Linked DNA regions of Homo sapiens. The protein of the gene in region 1 purifies or fractionates together with the protein of each later gene. This does not show direct contact. Each region holds a gene or a part of one and is shown in the gene's direction. Other genes may lie near its edges.

Evidence for each region. The genes of interacting proteins can lie anywhere in the genome.
Region 2: the proteins of CD63 (region 1) and LGALS8 purify together in Homo sapiens (affinity purification with mass spectrometry; 3 studies listed by BioGRID and IntAct, with this or other methods). This does not show direct contact.

The regions. Positions count from the first base shown.
Region 1 is NC_000012.12:55,725,849-55,734,005, reverse strand, and holds the start of CD63 (CD63 antigen), read left to right. Parts: upstream 1-4,996; 5' UTR 4,997-5,053; exon of another isoform or gene 5,054-5,210; intron 5,211-5,299; exon of another isoform or gene 5,300-5,490; intron 5,491-5,651; exon of another isoform or gene 5,652-5,653; 5' UTR 5,654-5,664; coding exon 5,665-5,730; intron 5,731-6,105; exon of another isoform or gene 6,106-6,142; intron 6,143-6,166; exon of another isoform or gene 6,167-6,394; intron 6,395-6,666; coding exon 6,667-6,855; intron 6,856-7,041; coding exon 7,042-7,116; intron 7,117-7,210; coding exon 7,211-7,306; intron 7,307-7,744; coding exon 7,745-7,885; intron 7,886-8,109; coding exon 8,110-8,157. UniProt on the Homo sapiens protein: Functions as a cell surface receptor for TIMP1 and plays a role in the activation of cellular signaling cascades. Plays a role in the activation of ITGB1 and integrin signaling, leading to the activation of AKT, FAK/PTK2 and MAP kinases.
Region 2 is NC_000001.11:236,533,911-236,541,179, forward strand, and holds part of LGALS8 (galectin-8), read left to right. Parts: intron 1-3,586; coding exon 3,587-3,675; intron 3,676-4,968; coding exon 4,969-5,179; intron 5,180-6,653; coding exon 6,654-6,773; intron 6,774-7,269.

The DNA.
Region 1 (8,157 bases):
CCAAAAAGTTGGAGCAGAGATGGCCACCCAGTGACTGGAAGACTCCTTTTTTTTTTTTTTTGAGATGGAGTCTCACTCTGTTGCCCAAGCTGGAGTGCAGTGGCATGATCTTGACTCACTGCAACCTCTGCCTTCCAGGTTCAAGCAATTTTCCTGCCTCAGCTTCCTGAGTAGCTGGGATTATAGGTGTGCACCACCACGCCCGGCTAATTTTTTTTTTTTTTTGAGACAGAGTCTCGCTCTGTTGCCCAGGCTGGAGTGCAATGGCGTGTTCTCAGCTCACTGCAACCGCCGCCTCCCGGGGTTAGAGTGATTCTCCTGCCTCAGCCTCCTGAGTAGCTGGGATTACAGGCGTGCGCCACAATGCCCGGCTAATTTTTGTATTTTTTAGTGGAGACGGGGTTTCACCACGTTGGTCAGGCTGTCTCGAACTTCTGACCTCGTGATCCGCCTGCCTTGGCCTCCCAAAGTGCTGGGATTACAGGCGTGAGTCACCGCCCTGGCCACACCTGGCTAATTTTTGTATTTGTAGTAGAGATGGGGTTTCACTGTGTTGTCCAGGCTGGTCTCAAACTCTTGACCTCAGGTGATCCACCCGCCTCGGCCTCCCAAAGTGCTAGGATTATAGGCGTGAGCCACCGCGCCTGGCCTGGAGACTCCTTTGTGTTCCCCAGTCTCCACCAACCAGTAAATACATAGTGGTGATGTCGCCATGGAGCCCGTGCACAGTACTCCCCTGGGGGCTGCACTCAGTGCTGGTGCTGGGGCATATAACCTACTCTCTGGAGAGCCCTGCGGGATGGTCTATGAGCTTTTCTGCCAGCAGGACCTGCAAACGCGCAGGTGCAGCCCCTCCTTCACCCTGCGATCTGAGAGATGCCATCAAGCACCGTGCCTCTATCCTTATCCAAAGCTGAGGCCTCTGGACTTAAATTTCAGGCCCCCATTTCAGACCCAACCTCTGGACCTTGAATTTTATCCACCACTCTCCTTACCCTCCCAGTGGGGGGATGGCTTTGATGATGCATCCTTGTTTCCTTCTTCCCTCCCATCCCTATCTCTTCCTCTTCCCTCTCCCCACTCCTCTCTTACACCTATTTTTCAAAAATTAAAGAAAATGTTTTTTAAACTGAAGCCCAAGAAGCATTGATCCTTCATGTATTTTTGCCTCCTCTTCCCCCATCCTTCCCCATGCCTCCCACCCTCCTCTATGTCTCTCACTTTCCGGTTTTTCCTCACCCCTCTCCCAACTCTCCTCAACTGTTCTTTTCCCTTGATTCTGGATCCCTTCTTTCTTCCTCACCTTCCTCATATCCCCTCACCCTCCTCATATCCCCTCACCCTTTCCTGTGCTTAGATGCAGGCTACAAGCTGCTGTGCATGGCACTGGGTCTGGCTGATGCCTACATGCTCTCAGAAGGCTGCAGGTTTGCTTGAGACATCTGTGGCCCCCATGCTGTGTCGCTGGGCCTAGGTGGAGGCGTGGTGAAGCTGGAGGGAAAGCTGGCTTTGCTTGGTGTGGAGGGACAAGGGTCCCCGCCTCAGCACACCTACCACCAACTGGTGCCAGGCAACCAAGAGGCAGCAGCCTGGGCCAGCCAGGACGGCTTGGTGGCATATCTGGATGTCAGGCACTTGGAACAGGTGCTGGGGGATCTGAAGGATGTGAAGGGCCAGGTCTGAGATCAGCCACTTCCCACTAAGAGGCCCCTCTATCCTGCACCCCAGCAAACACATGGAGCTCTGTGTCAACTTTCCAGGCTGTAGAAGTGGGCCATTCTTTGTGTGTATGTGTGTAGTAAAATATATATAACATAAAATTCAGGGACATTGAGTACATACACATTGTGCAACCATCAGCACCATCCATCTCCACAACATTTTCATCTTTCTTTCTTTTTCTTTGAGACAGAGTCTCGCTCTGTTGCCCAGGCTGGAGTGCAATGGCACAATATCGGCTCTACTAAAAATACAAAATTATCCAGGCATGGTGGCGCATGCCTGTAATCCCGGCTACTCAGGAGGCTGAGGCAGGAGAATCTCTTGAACCTGGGAGGCAGAGGTTGTGGTGAGTTGTGCCACTGCACTCCAGCCTGGGCAACAAGAGCAAAACTCCATCTCAAAAACAAAAACAAAAACAAAAAACCTAGATGTTTATGGTTAAGGAAACAAATTAATAATAATAAAAAAGATAATATCGATTCTTACAAAATACAGTAATTAAGAAAATTAATCCTTTATCACAAACTTTTGTAGCAGAGCACATCTCTCCATATATACAAGCATTATACCGAGGGTGAATGTGTTCCTCCTCTTACTTTTTTTTTTTGAGACAGAGTTTTGCCGGGCACAGTGGCTCACGCCTGTAATCCCAGCACTTTGGAAGGCTGAGGGGGCGGATCACGAGGTCAATAGATGGAGACCATCCTGGCCAATATGGTGAAACCCCATCTCTACTAAAAACACAAAAATTAGCTGGGCGTAGTGGTGCGTGCCTGTAGTCCCAGCTACTTGGGAGGCTGAGGCAGGAGAATCACTTGAACACGGGAGGCGGAGGTTGCAGTGAGCCAAGATGGCACCACTGCACTCCACCCTGGTGACAGAGCGAGACTCCGTCTCAAAAAAAAAAAAAAAAAAAAGAGAGACGGAGTTTCACTCTTGTTGCCCAGGATGGCATGCAGCAACACGATCTCTGCTCACTGCAACCTCTGCCTCCTGGGTTCAAGTGATTCTCCTGCCTCAGCCTCCTGAGTAGCTGGGACTACAGGCACACATCATTGTGCCCAGCTACTTTTTGTATTTTTAGTAGAGACGGGGTTTCACCGTGTTGGCCAGGCTGGTCTCGAACTCCTGACCTCAGGTGATCCACCTGCCTAGGCCTCCCAAAATGCTGGGATTACAGGTGTGGTGAGCCACTGCGCCTAGCCCCTCCTCTTACTTTGGGGAACATCCTACTCTGTCTATGGAGCAGCTGTTGTTTCACCACTTTACTTTCTTAATAAACTTGCTTATACTTTGCACTGCGACTCGCCCTGAATCTTTCTTGCATGAGATCCAAGAACCCTCTCTTGTGGTCTGGATTGGGACCCCTTTCCTGTAACAAATGCATTGGCTGATAGGAGAATAAAGAAAAAAAAAGAGGAAAAACTAGAGTAACTTCTCTACATAATCATATTATATGACCGTTTTGTTAACCATGATAACAGTTAACAAAATAATTTTCTTATGTCTAATTCTCAGTCCATGTCTGTATGTCCCAAAATGTCTTTCACAGCTGGTTTGTTCAACCATTCAATGAAGGACCAAACATTGCAGTTGGTTGTTATGTATCTAGTCTCTCAATCTTGATCTTCAGACCACCTTCAGCCCATCTCACCACATCCGTCCCAAGCCCTTTGAGCCAGCCAACCCCAACCTGCCATGTACTTTACAAAATGCTCCTTTTTTTTCCACAGTCGACTGCTTCTCTGTCCCTGGAGCTCTCCCCTTTATTCTCCAAGGTCACCTTGAGCACATCCTTCTGCTCCGTGAAATCCATTCTCCTCTCCCTTTCCCTCCCTCTGAGCTTAACCAGCTGCCACCGCAGGCTTCTGCCTTTCTTCACAGTGTGGCCAGAACTCGGTTCTGCCTGCTAGCAGAGGGCAGGGCCGCTGTCTTCCTCTCCTTGCAGCCCCCAAGCCTAGCACATGCCTGGCATCTAGTGGCAGCACAATAAGGAACCTGATGAATACTCCTTTCTTCTGCTCTCCGCTCCTCCTCCACAGCCTGCCAGCCATGGTCAGGAAGAGCAAGATCCGGAATGGGCTTGGTGTGTCCCGCGGGAAGGCCGTGATCCTGGAAGATGCTTCTCAGCCCAGCCCGGATCTCCTTCCTTTAGCTCTAGAGACTTCTTTCATTCTTTGTGTACACACATACACTAAGACTCAGGAAGTGGTTCTTGAGGCAGGACCTTAAGAGCCCAAGGAGTGGGGCCGAGGCTGGAGGTGTGGGGGTGTGACGGCCGGTCCTACTCTCCGGCCTGTTCAGATCAGCTCCTTCTGGGGACCACCCCTGGCACACAAGGGAGGGAGGCAGCTTGATCCCCCTAGCCCGCTTCCAGCCCTCACCTGGCTTTGTCTTCTGGGATAAGACGGGGAAATCCAGAGGATGTAAGCCTCTCCTGCCTTCGTGTCTTCCCCCAAGCCCTCGCTATCACAGACGGATGCAGGAGCTGTCTGGGAGGCTGGAAGCACAGACCTTGTCAATCCTCCCCCAGAGGGCGGGACCCGACGCGGACGTGTCTTGATTGACTGGGTAGCGTGGCTTCGGGGAAGGGCTTCCTCCCCTTTTCTCAGACTAGGATCCCTGGAAAATGGAGAAGCTGTGCTAATAGAGGGGGGCCAGAAATCCCCACTCTAGAATGCTGTAGAATGTTGGGAGACACCCAGGATGTGAGCCAGGGACTTTCTGGAAGTGTTTGTTCTGGCCCCACCCGACCCCAGGCAGTCCCCAGCTGTCTGCACAGTCGGATGGGGAGGGGGCTTGCACAGAGTTGGAGCCAGAGGAGAGAGCTGGCTCATCCCCTACGGTAGGATGGGGAAACCTCACAGACCACATTGTCACCCGGCCTCAGCTCTCCGCCCCGGCGCTCAGAGGGTAACTCTCACCCACCTCGTCCGCTTCTCTGAACCAGAGTGACCCAGGCTGCGCTCCGCCCCGCTCTCCTACCCCGAGTTGGCACGGAGGTATAGCGCCAGAGGGGGGCCCCAGGCGCCCCGAGGTCTTGCCCTTGCGGCTTTCCCTTTGCGGGGGTGGGCGCCTTCTTCCGGGTAGGGGCCACGTGGCCCTGGCCGGGCGGGGGGCTCGGCCCACCCCGCGCCGGGCCCAGTGACTCAGGCCGCAGCTGTTACCGCGTCACATGAGGGAGGCCGGCGGCCACTCGGCGGGGGAGGGGACCGTGGCTGGAGCCCGGGGCGGGGCCGCGCGGCAGGCGGGGCGGGAGCCGGGGGGCGCAGCTAGAGAGCCCCGGAGCCGCGGCGGGAGAGGAACGCGCAGCCAGCCTTGGGAAGCCCAGGTGAGGCCGCGGGGACCCGGCGGACTTCGGCGCGGGCTGGGAGAGACCACCCGCAGTCCCTTCCTCCAGGGCTCGCCCCAGGCCCGCGGAGACTCGTCCGGCGCTCTCCAGCCGCCCTGGAGCAACTTTGCTTCGAAGTTCCCTGGGCCCGGGCAGGGTGTGGCGGGGGTGCTGGCTGCACTTTTTTTTTTTTTGGTGGGCGGGGAGGTCAGAGCCCAGGGGAAAGGGGCTGGGGCGGGGGTCGGGGTTGGGCTGAAGACCGTTTCTCCAGGCTGGGTGTTGGGTGGGGAAAGGGTGTTTGACGCCCGGAGACTGGCGGGCCGAGGGTCGGCGTCAGGCTCAAGCCCCTGCCGGCGCCCTTGGATCTGTCCTGGGCCCCAGAGGCGGCGGGGCGGGGTCCGGGCTTCGCGGCCGTCGCCCCCACCCCTCTCCTGCGGGTAAAGAGGGGGCTGGGAGACGTGGATCCGACCGCGGGTTTCCGGGTGGGAGGGGCCGGGAATCGGGGCCGTGAAGGGAAGCCCTCGAGGGCCGGCCGGGAGCCCGGAAACCGAGGTCCCCCTTCGGCCAGTTTTAATCCCCCCGCCCTCCCCTCTGCCCCAGGCCCGGCAGCCATGGCGGTGGAAGGAGGAATGAAATGTGTGAAGTTCTTGCTCTACGTCCTCCTGCTGGCCTTTTGCGTGAGTGGCGAGGGGTCCTGGGGGGCGCGCCGGCAGGGTGCGGGGAGACCTGGCTCCACAGTGGTGAGGGCTGAGGGAATGAGAATTAAGGCAGCTGGAGACCAGATGTGGAAAGAAAGCCAGGGAAAGACAGCGCAGCCACTCCCTCCTCCAGTTTTCCTGGACACCTGAGGCTTGTTTCCACCGAGAATGGCCATCCTGGGTGTGCAGCAACCCCTACCCCCATCCCTCCTGGCCCTTCCTGTCTGGTGACCCAACCACTTGTGATATGGGGCAGTGGGGCAACCAGCCAACCGCCTGATGCTATCGCCATGGGGCTTCCCTTCGCTCTCCCTTCTCCCCTCTCTCCCTCCCCAACCCTCTCATCCCTGTCCAGCCCCTCTCCCCCTTTCCCTCCTCCCAGCGCTTGGGGGTGAGGAAGGGCTCTGCCCACTTCAATTTGCTCCTGCCCTGGGCTCCTGGCTTGAGAGGCTACTGTTTGTCTAGGGAGGGACACATCACTCTTGCTCCCTTTTCCTCTTCCCTTCTCCTGGCCTAACTGGCCAGAGGAACCTTAGTCACAGCTGATGCGCGCGTGGGATGTGCACTGGAGGATAGTGAGGGGGCAGTTCTGGGAGAGAATTGAGCTGGGAGCCCTGGAGGCCTGTAGAAAGCATTATTCTAGGTCAGAAATACGTGTCTTGAGGTCAAGGCTTTCTGGGAGGTTTTTGAATTTGGTCATGTCCCTGATTAAAGAGCCGGGAGGGGATCAGGGGAGGTAGGGGCAGGCAAGGATGGGTCATCCCCCTACCCCACAGCCAAAGAAATTCCCTAGAGGTGTGAGAATCTCTCTTCCGGATGGGGTCAAGTCTGTGTCCTAGGTGTACCCCCTGCCCTCCACCATGGAGGGCCACTGTGTTGTGGATATGGCCTAATCCTCACCTGATTTTCTCTTAGGCCTGTGCAGTGGGACTGATTGCCGTGGGTGTCGGGGCACAGCTTGTCCTGAGTCAGACCATAATCCAGGGGGCTACCCCTGGCTCTCTGTTGCCAGTGGTCATCATCGCAGTGGGTGTCTTCCTCTTCCTGGTGGCTTTTGTGGGCTGCTGCGGGGCCTGCAAGGAGAACTATTGTCTTATGATCACGGTGAGTTGGGGGCGGGACCAACATGGGCGGTCTGGGACTGCCAGAGCAGCTTGGTTCGGGCTCAGGAAGGTGGGTGAGGTGGGTGGGTGAGGAAGACCTTTGTGAGTGTCCAGGGACCGGCTGTGCCAAAACGGGCCCCTGTAATGCATAGACTCCAAACTTGACTTCTGTCCTTTGCTCCTGCAGTTTGCCATCTTTCTGTCTCTTATCATGTTGGTGGAGGTGGCCGCAGCCATTGCTGGCTATGTGTTTAGAGATAAGGTAAGCAGGGAATAATGGGAAGGGCCTGCCTCAGCCGGGTCTGGGACCCTGGTGCTTGAATTCTGACTGCAACAGTGCTCCTCCGTACTCTCAGGTGATGTCAGAGTTTAATAACAACTTCCGGCAGCAGATGGAGAATTACCCGAAAAACAACCACACTGCTTCGATCCTGGACAGGATGCAGGCAGATGTGAGTGGGGTTGCTGGGAGCAGGGGTGGTGGGAATAGAGAATTCTCATCTCCAAGGCTGGGTGTGGTGACTCACGCCTGTAATCTCAGCACTTTTGAAGGCCGAGGTGGGCAGATCACCTGAGGTCAGAAGTTCAAGACTAGCCTGGCCAACGTGGTGAAACCCTGTCTCTACTAAAAATACAAAAATTAGCCAGGTGTGGTGGTGAGTGCCTGTAATCCCACCTACTCAGGAGGGTGAGGCAGGAGAATCGCTTGAACCCGGGAGGCGGAGGTTGCAGTGAGCCGAGATTGAGCCACCGCTGGGCACTTGTCTGGGCAACAGAGCAAGTCTCTGTCTCAAAAAAAAAAAAAAAAAAAAAAAAAGAATTCTCATCTCCATATTGAAGGTGAAGGTTCACTTAACAACCTTCTTCTCCATATTTCTTCCCTCCCCCAGTTTAAGTGCTGTGGGGCTGCTAACTACACAGATTGGGAGAAAATCCCTTCCATGTCGAAGAACCGAGTCCCCGACTCCTGCTGCATTAATGTTACTGTGGGCTGTGGGATTAATTTCAACGAGAAGGCGATCCATAAGGAGGTAGGGAGGAGACTGTGTATGGGACTTGGGAAACCTGGGAAATGTTTTAGAATGCAAGAGACCCAGGATGGAGGTGGACAGGGTCAGGGATGGGGAGGGGATCTGGAAATGCTAAGGGTGGGGTGAAAGGTACAGGGGCAGGGAAGAGACTGATGGACCAAGGGAGGGGGTTGGGGTGGGAAGTTTCTGATGGTGCTTTTGTCCTTTGTGCCTGCCACCTTCAGGGCTGTGTGGAGAAGATTGGGGGCTGGCTGAGGAAAAATGTGCTGGTG
Region 2 (7,269 bases), on another chromosome or scaffold:
CAGATGTAGCTCCCTCTGACCCTGGATGCAGCTCCCTCTGACCCTCGATATAGCTGCCCCTGACCCCGGATGTAGCTGCCTTTGACCCCAGATGTAGCTTTCTCCAAACCCAGATATAGCGGCTGCCCCCTTGCCAGAGTGAATACTGCGTCATTGTGGCTTCTTCTTGTCACTGGTTCTTACTTAAAAGCTGAGCTGGAAGTTCTAATGGGCAGTTTTGTCACCTGCTCTTACCTTGTTGCAGTCTAGATGAGGTCTAATGTTCATAAGCTAGGGGATTTTCAGATATGGAAAGGGATACCAATTTTCAGCAGCCAAATAGAGTATCACATTTTCACTCCATGTTTCCTGGGTGTCTGTTATGTTTCCTGGGTGTCTGACTCTTAGGCTTCTTTCAAGCTGCAGTCTGCCTAATAGAGAGCCTTGCATTTAATCATCAAAAAGGCAAAGCAATATGAATCAGCAAGGGTGTTTTGGGAAATAACAGCAAACCTGACTGTGGCGTAAGCTTGTGGTATTGTCTCCAGTGTGATCAGATCTGTATTTTAATTTTTTAAATGTAAATTAATAATGATCTGTGAATCACCAAAGTAGCTTGGAGTAGCCTAGAAAACAATGTATGTCCTCCGTTTTCACAGAAGCCACATAGTCGTGGGTTAAATGAGTCAGCGGCAGGGCACTGTGTCTCATAGTTAAAAAAAAAAAAAAGTATTACTGAAGTAATGCAGGATCTTTTCTGAAGTAGAAGGCATGATGAACCCAGAAAACTAAAGCAGCAAGTGGCCACCGTTCTTAGCATAGTTGTTTCTCAAACTGGAACAACCTATAAACAGTTGTGAACAAGGTATTAGAAGTGATGGGGGCCGGGTGCGGTAGCTTCTCCCAAAGCTCATTACCTCCCAAAGCAACCCCAGTACTTTGGGAGGATCACTTTGAGCCCAGGAGTTCCAGACCAGCCCGGCCAACATGGCAAAACCCCATCTCTCTAAAAGTACAAAAAATTAGCTGGGCATGGTGGCACATGCCTGTAGTCCCAGCTACTTGGATGGCTGAGGCAGGAGAATCGCTTGAACCCGGGAGGCAGAGGTTGCAGTGAGCTGAGATCACGCCACTGCACTCTAGCCTGGGGGACAGAGTGAGACTCTGTCTCAAAAAAAAAAAAAAAAAAAAAAAAGTGATGGGAATAGATTGTTTTGTCTCAAAAAGCTCTTTCCAACACTAAAATGAAACATATAATTAAAAATATTTTTCTGGCTATAGAAATATCGATGCTTATTATAGACATCTGCAAAGTATGAAAATATATGAAGAAAAAAATTAAAATCCCATCATCCCCCATGAAAACTATTGTTATCATTTTTGTCTGATTTCTTTAGTGTTTCTCTTTTTCTTTTTTTAATTTTTAATTTTTTTGAGTATGTAGTAGGTATATCTATTTATGGGGTATATGGCATATTTTGATACAGGATACAGTGTGTATTAGCAAGGTTTTCTTTTTAATGTTTATATTTATTTAGTTGAGATCATACTATATATGGCTCTATAGATTACTTTCTCACTTATATTACTAACTTGTGTTATTAAATATTCTGCATAAAGATAATTTTAAGATGAAATTTGATGTTATAAAAACTTCTCATTTTATTAAGAGATTAACGCTATGAAACCTGCTGCTATATATTCTTGGAACCAGCTGTGACCCAAAAGATCAATGTAGGGATGTAGGTCCTTCCCCATTCTCTACACACAAAATCAGATACTCTGATGTGCAGCTGTAGCCCCAGTCTACACTGTCTGTTGTATTTTTTGTTTTCTGGTGTCATGTGCCTCCCACCCTGCTCCTAGCAATTGCCATGACAACAAATAGATAATTGGCTTCCGTAATTTCTCATCTTATTGCCTAAGGCAACAGAGAGCTTGTGGGCTCAGCTTGCGGTTCAGCAGCTGCTTTGTTGCCTCTCCTCTGTATGTGTGAGGCCTGCCAGAGCCCACTTTCCAGACAGGTGAGAGTTCATTCATTCACCATGCAGTTACCGATCGTCTCTTGACCTGTGTCCTGGGGAGGTAAAGGTGATGAGCCAGTTCTGCCCCATGCAGCTCACAGTCTAGGCAAAGCTACATGCAAACAAACAGAATCCAAAGTGCTATCATGAACCCTCTGAGAGGGGCTGACTCAGCAGCCCAGGGAGCTTGAAGAAGGCTCCACAGAGGAGGCTGTGCCTCAAGGCGATTTCGGTTTAGGAGCCACCAATTTATAACCACTTTTCTGTGGCCCGTCTTATTTTATTTCTTATTTCTTGACAATCAGAAGTACCTTGGGTAGGTTTTACCATGCACATCGTAATTTGAGTGAGCTTAGTGTGAGGCTTAACGGTGTGTGGGCTGTACATCCTGGTCAGATGCTCTAGATGGAGGCAGATGGTTGTGATGCAGGAGAGGCAGCCACATAGCACAGGTCCCCAGCCAGTGGACTGGGAAGACAGTGTAGTCATCTCTGGGGAAGGGGAATGACAAGATCTGGCAGTGTGGCAGGTCCCAGAAAAAAAGGGCTGGGTTCTGGGCAGTGAGGGTGCAGGTTGAGACCTGAATACTGGGTGGAGCCAGCTGTCAGAGTCCACGCCTGCAGACTGGACTGGTCCACGGCAGGTGGATGCCATGTCTTGAAGACCCACAGGCACCCACTCATCCTCATGATCATGCAGTTCTCTGGTTTCTAACAGTGCAGTCTGGGTTGCAGTCTGGGAGTCCAGCAGAGAAGAGCAGGCCCTGGAATCCCAGGTGTGGGGGCGTGGCTTAACGTGGAGTTTCCTTCAGAGGCAGTGAGTGCTTGTCATTGTCTCCGTCAGCATTGGCTTTGGGCCTAGTGTGGCCTCGAACCTTCTGTTGGGATCAGCAGTGGAACAGTAGGAAAAGGAATGAGTAGACATGGCATTGCAACAAGTCTTTTTTTTTTTTTCTGTTAGAATTATCATATTAAGCAGAAGTTTTGCTTCACAAACTCTCAGCCAAATACAAAATACTATGAATAGTATTTACCTTGTGTCTCTTTCCAAAGAACTCATAGTGGTTTGCAGCTATTGCAGATATCCTGGCCATGAGGTATGCAGTTCCTTTTTTTTTTTTTGAGACGGAGCCTTGCTCTGTCGCCCAGGCTGGAGCATAGTGGCGCGATCTCGGCTCACTGCAAGCTCCGCCTCCCAGGTTCGTGCCATTCTCCTGCCTCAGCCTCCCGAGTAGCTGGGACTACAGGCGCCCACCACCACACCCGGCTAATTTTTGTATTTTTAGTAGAGACGGGGTTTCACCGTGTTAGCCAGGATGGTCTCGATCTGCTGACCTCGTGATCCTCCCGCCTCGGCCTCCCAAAGTGCTGGGATTACAGGCGTGAGCCACCGCGCCCGGCCGCAGTTCCTTTTTCTAGCTGTTTGAATAGGAAAGATGACTTGGAAAATGCTGGATTCTGAGCAGATTTATGTGCAGCCTTAAAAAGTGTAGTTTTTCTCTATCAATAATGAGTGTGGGTTGTAATTGCTTAGTAAGTAATTTTGTTTATGTAAACGTACATTTGTTAAATTTTTTTTCTTAGGTAATCCCGTTTGTTGGCACCATTCCTGATCAGCTGGATCCTGGAACTTTGATTGTGATACGTGGGCATGTTCCTAGTGACGCAGACAGGTAAAATCACTGTGCTAAAGGAAGGAGCATGAATAGGCTGTCTTTTTGTGATTGTGGAATGATAACAGAGTAAGGCGGGAGAGACCATTTGATACTTTGAGGCCCAATTAGCTTTCATCAGCAGCCCTGGCCAAGGTGCTGAGGAGATTGGAATGAATGACTAAATAAAGGTTATTGGGATTTATTTCATTGCTGTAAGTCTGATTTCAGTATAAAAAATTAGAACTATCAGCTGGATGTGGTGACTTAAACATACTTTTCCAGCACTTTGGGAGGCCAAGGCAGGAGGATTGTTTGAGGCCAGGAGTTTGAGACCAGCCTGGGCAACATAGTGAGACCCCCCATCTGTAAAAAAAAAAAAAATTTAAAAATTAACTGGCTTGGTGGTGTGCGCCTGTAGTTGTAGCTACTCAGGGGGCTGAGGTAGGAGGATTCCTTGAGCCCAGGAGTTTGAGGTTGCAGTGAGCTGTGATCGAGCCACTGCACTATAGCCTGGGTGACAAAAAAAAAAAAGAAAAAGAAAAAGAATTAGGTATGTCATTAAAGAAAGGAATTGTGGTCAGATGACAGGGACAGTCTAGTTTTAGTCTGACATTCCCACAGCATTACAGATCTAGTTCAGATGGTTTTACTGAATACCTGCTTTGGATACAAGCTGTGGTATCATTAGTGTTGGGCTCAGCTCTGTGTACCTAACACCTGAAGAGCAGTGGTTTAAGATGTGAAAATTAAGTCTCAAGGAGACAGCCCAGGCCTTTTCAGTTAACTCCTTCAAGTCGTTAGAGAAGTAGACTCCTTCGAGCTCACCACTCTGTTATCTTGAGGGTGAGGTAAGGTCCCCTTTCCCGTTTTCCTTGGCAGCCAGATTTCCAGCCCTCACTTCTGTGCTTTGGGTAGCTGGATGGGTGCATGTGGTGTTTGCGGGGAAACAGAGCTGGACAAAAGGCAAGTGCTTGCTGACTTCTAAGGCAGTTTCCAGTAGCCTTCCCTGAGCACTTCACTTCCATCTTACCAGCAGAGCTTTAGCTGCACAGGCAGGCCTAGCTGCGAGGGAGGCTGGGAAAGGTAGGTTTTTATTCTGGGCAGATTCAGACCCAGTTCAAACTCAGGGGCTATTTTACTGAGGAAGACAGAAAAGATTAGACAGTCAGCTCTTTAGGCCTCATAGTGAATGAATGAGGAGGGATTGGTCAGTCCCTTGTCACTGGGCCTGGAGTGTAGTGCCTGCTGGTCCTTTACTGGTGGCTTTCCTTTCTGAGCACTCATGGGGCCCCTGTGTCTTCCCTCATATAGATTCCAGGTGGATCTGCAGAATGGCAGCAGCATGAAACCTCGAGCCGATGTGGCCTTTCATTTCAATCCTCGTTTCAAAAGGGCCGGCTGCATTGTTTGCAATACTTTGATAAATGAAAAATGGGGACGGGAAGAGATCACCTATGACACGCCTTTCAAAAGAGAAAAGTCTTTTGAGATCGTGATTATGGTGCTGAAGGACAAATTCCAGGTAGGTTTTGGAGAGGGACAGGTTGAGTCCTCATTAGTGAGCAGGAGTGCACAGGGGTGCTTTTCACATTTGTGAGCCCAGCCTTATATTTCCTACACCTGAGATATAGTTTGTTTGGCTTTGTAGTTTTTCTCCATAAAAGGACCAGGAAGGCACCTAAATGTGAGGTATGGCACCACTACTCTCCAGCCAGTTGTTGCCATGCAGAAATATGGTCCACTGTGACCAGATCTTTTTATTAGATCCTATTTCTCCTAGCAGGGCTGAGTTCCGAATTGACACAGTATTATGTTCATGATGGGAGGGTAAGTTATAATATAACCGCCACCACCCGAAGAGCTAACAAGGGCAATCCCAGCGAAGAAATCAGAAGGGTTTTGTAAATTCAAGTCTTGCCACAAGACAGTTCCGTAGGATCATGAGATTTTAGACCCAGAGGAGATCCTAGAAATCCTTGATGTCAGTTCCATCTCTGGCTTCATGGAGTGTCTTGTACCTAGCGTGTATGTGTACGGTTGAATTTGGTCCCAGAAGCTTACACCTGCTGGCCCTCTGGCCTGTGGAGCTTGCCCACAGTAGAGGTATGTACCAACGCGAGAGAAGACTCGAATGCCTCTGGCGCAGATCCTTTCTGATCTTCGGGATACTGCTCCTGCCCGAAAGTCTTTCTGAATCTCCCAAACTCCATTCACCTCTCCCTTCTCTGGCCTTTTGAGCCCGTGTCTGTATCATTCTTTTTCACAGTTTTTAACAGTTGTGCTTTGGCTTTACGTGTTTATTTTGCCTCCACAATGGGATTTTAAGCTCCCTGAGTCAGAGACTATATTGTATGCTGCTCGCGTTTTCTGCCTATAACCTAACGTGGTACCTGGCATTTGAGAGGGAGGGAGGAGGAGCCTCGTAGCGTGCCGAGGACCTGCAGAAGCTACTTTCTCGTCATCTTACTGTAGTCTGTTGAGGTAGAGACTGTTCCTACTTCAGAATAAGAAAACCGAATTCAAATATGTTGGGTAACTTGTCCATATTAATTTATTTAGCAAATACAACAGATTTTGAGTGTCTGCCACATGGGTGGTCTCCAGGGACAGTGTTGTGGGGAGCTCGCAGGCAGATCTTTAACCTGGGTTCACAATCTCCAGGGCACCTGTGCCTGGGCTTCCAGGCGACCTTCGAACCCAGATGTCTCACATGTATGCAGAGGCGCACACAAGCACACGCACATATACTTATGACTGCCTGTTTGTCTGGGGAGAGACAGTTCCTGGTGCTTAATCAAATCAGGAACTCAAAAGAAGTTTGGAAGCACTGCTAGTGTTTTGGGTGCTTTCGGTTACCATTTGGTCATGTGTGTGGAGACCTGTGGGAACAGGTATAAAACTGGACGCAAGGAAACATTTAAATTTGGATAATAAGTTAATTTATTAACTGTTTTTTTTTGGTGGCGGGGGGGGCTCTGTCTTCTGTATCTCTCTAGGTGGCTGTAAATGGAAAACATACTCTGCTCTATGGCCACAGGATCGGCCCAGAGAAAATAGACACTCTGGGCATTTATGGCAAAGTGAATATTCACTCAATTGGTTTTAGCTTCAGCTCGGTGAGTGACCTTCCACAGCTTGGGGTCTTTTATGAGGATGGTTTCTGATGAGATGGTAGAAAAAATCTTCAAATAACACTTCTATTGACATAAAAAGGACGTATCTCCCTGACTGTAGTATTAATTTTTTGGAAGTGAACTGTTCACACTAGCAGAAGGCTGTTTATCAGCCAGGGCTTCATTGTCTGTAGGATCTCAAACCTAGTGTGGTTTTAATAAAACACACACAGTTTTTAGCTGGGTAGCAGCTATTTCCTTTGCATGGGCATAAAATGGAGTATTTCTGTAAGACAGGTTCCTAGGCTGGGAGTGCCTGAGTCAAAGAGCACAGTCATGTGTTGCATAAGGACAGTTCAGTCAAAGATGAACCACATATACAACCGTGGTCCCATAAGATTGTCATATACTGTATTTTTACCATACCTTTTCTATGTTTAGGTAAGTTTATATGCACAAATACTTACCATCCTGCTCTGGTTGCCTACAGTATTTGGTA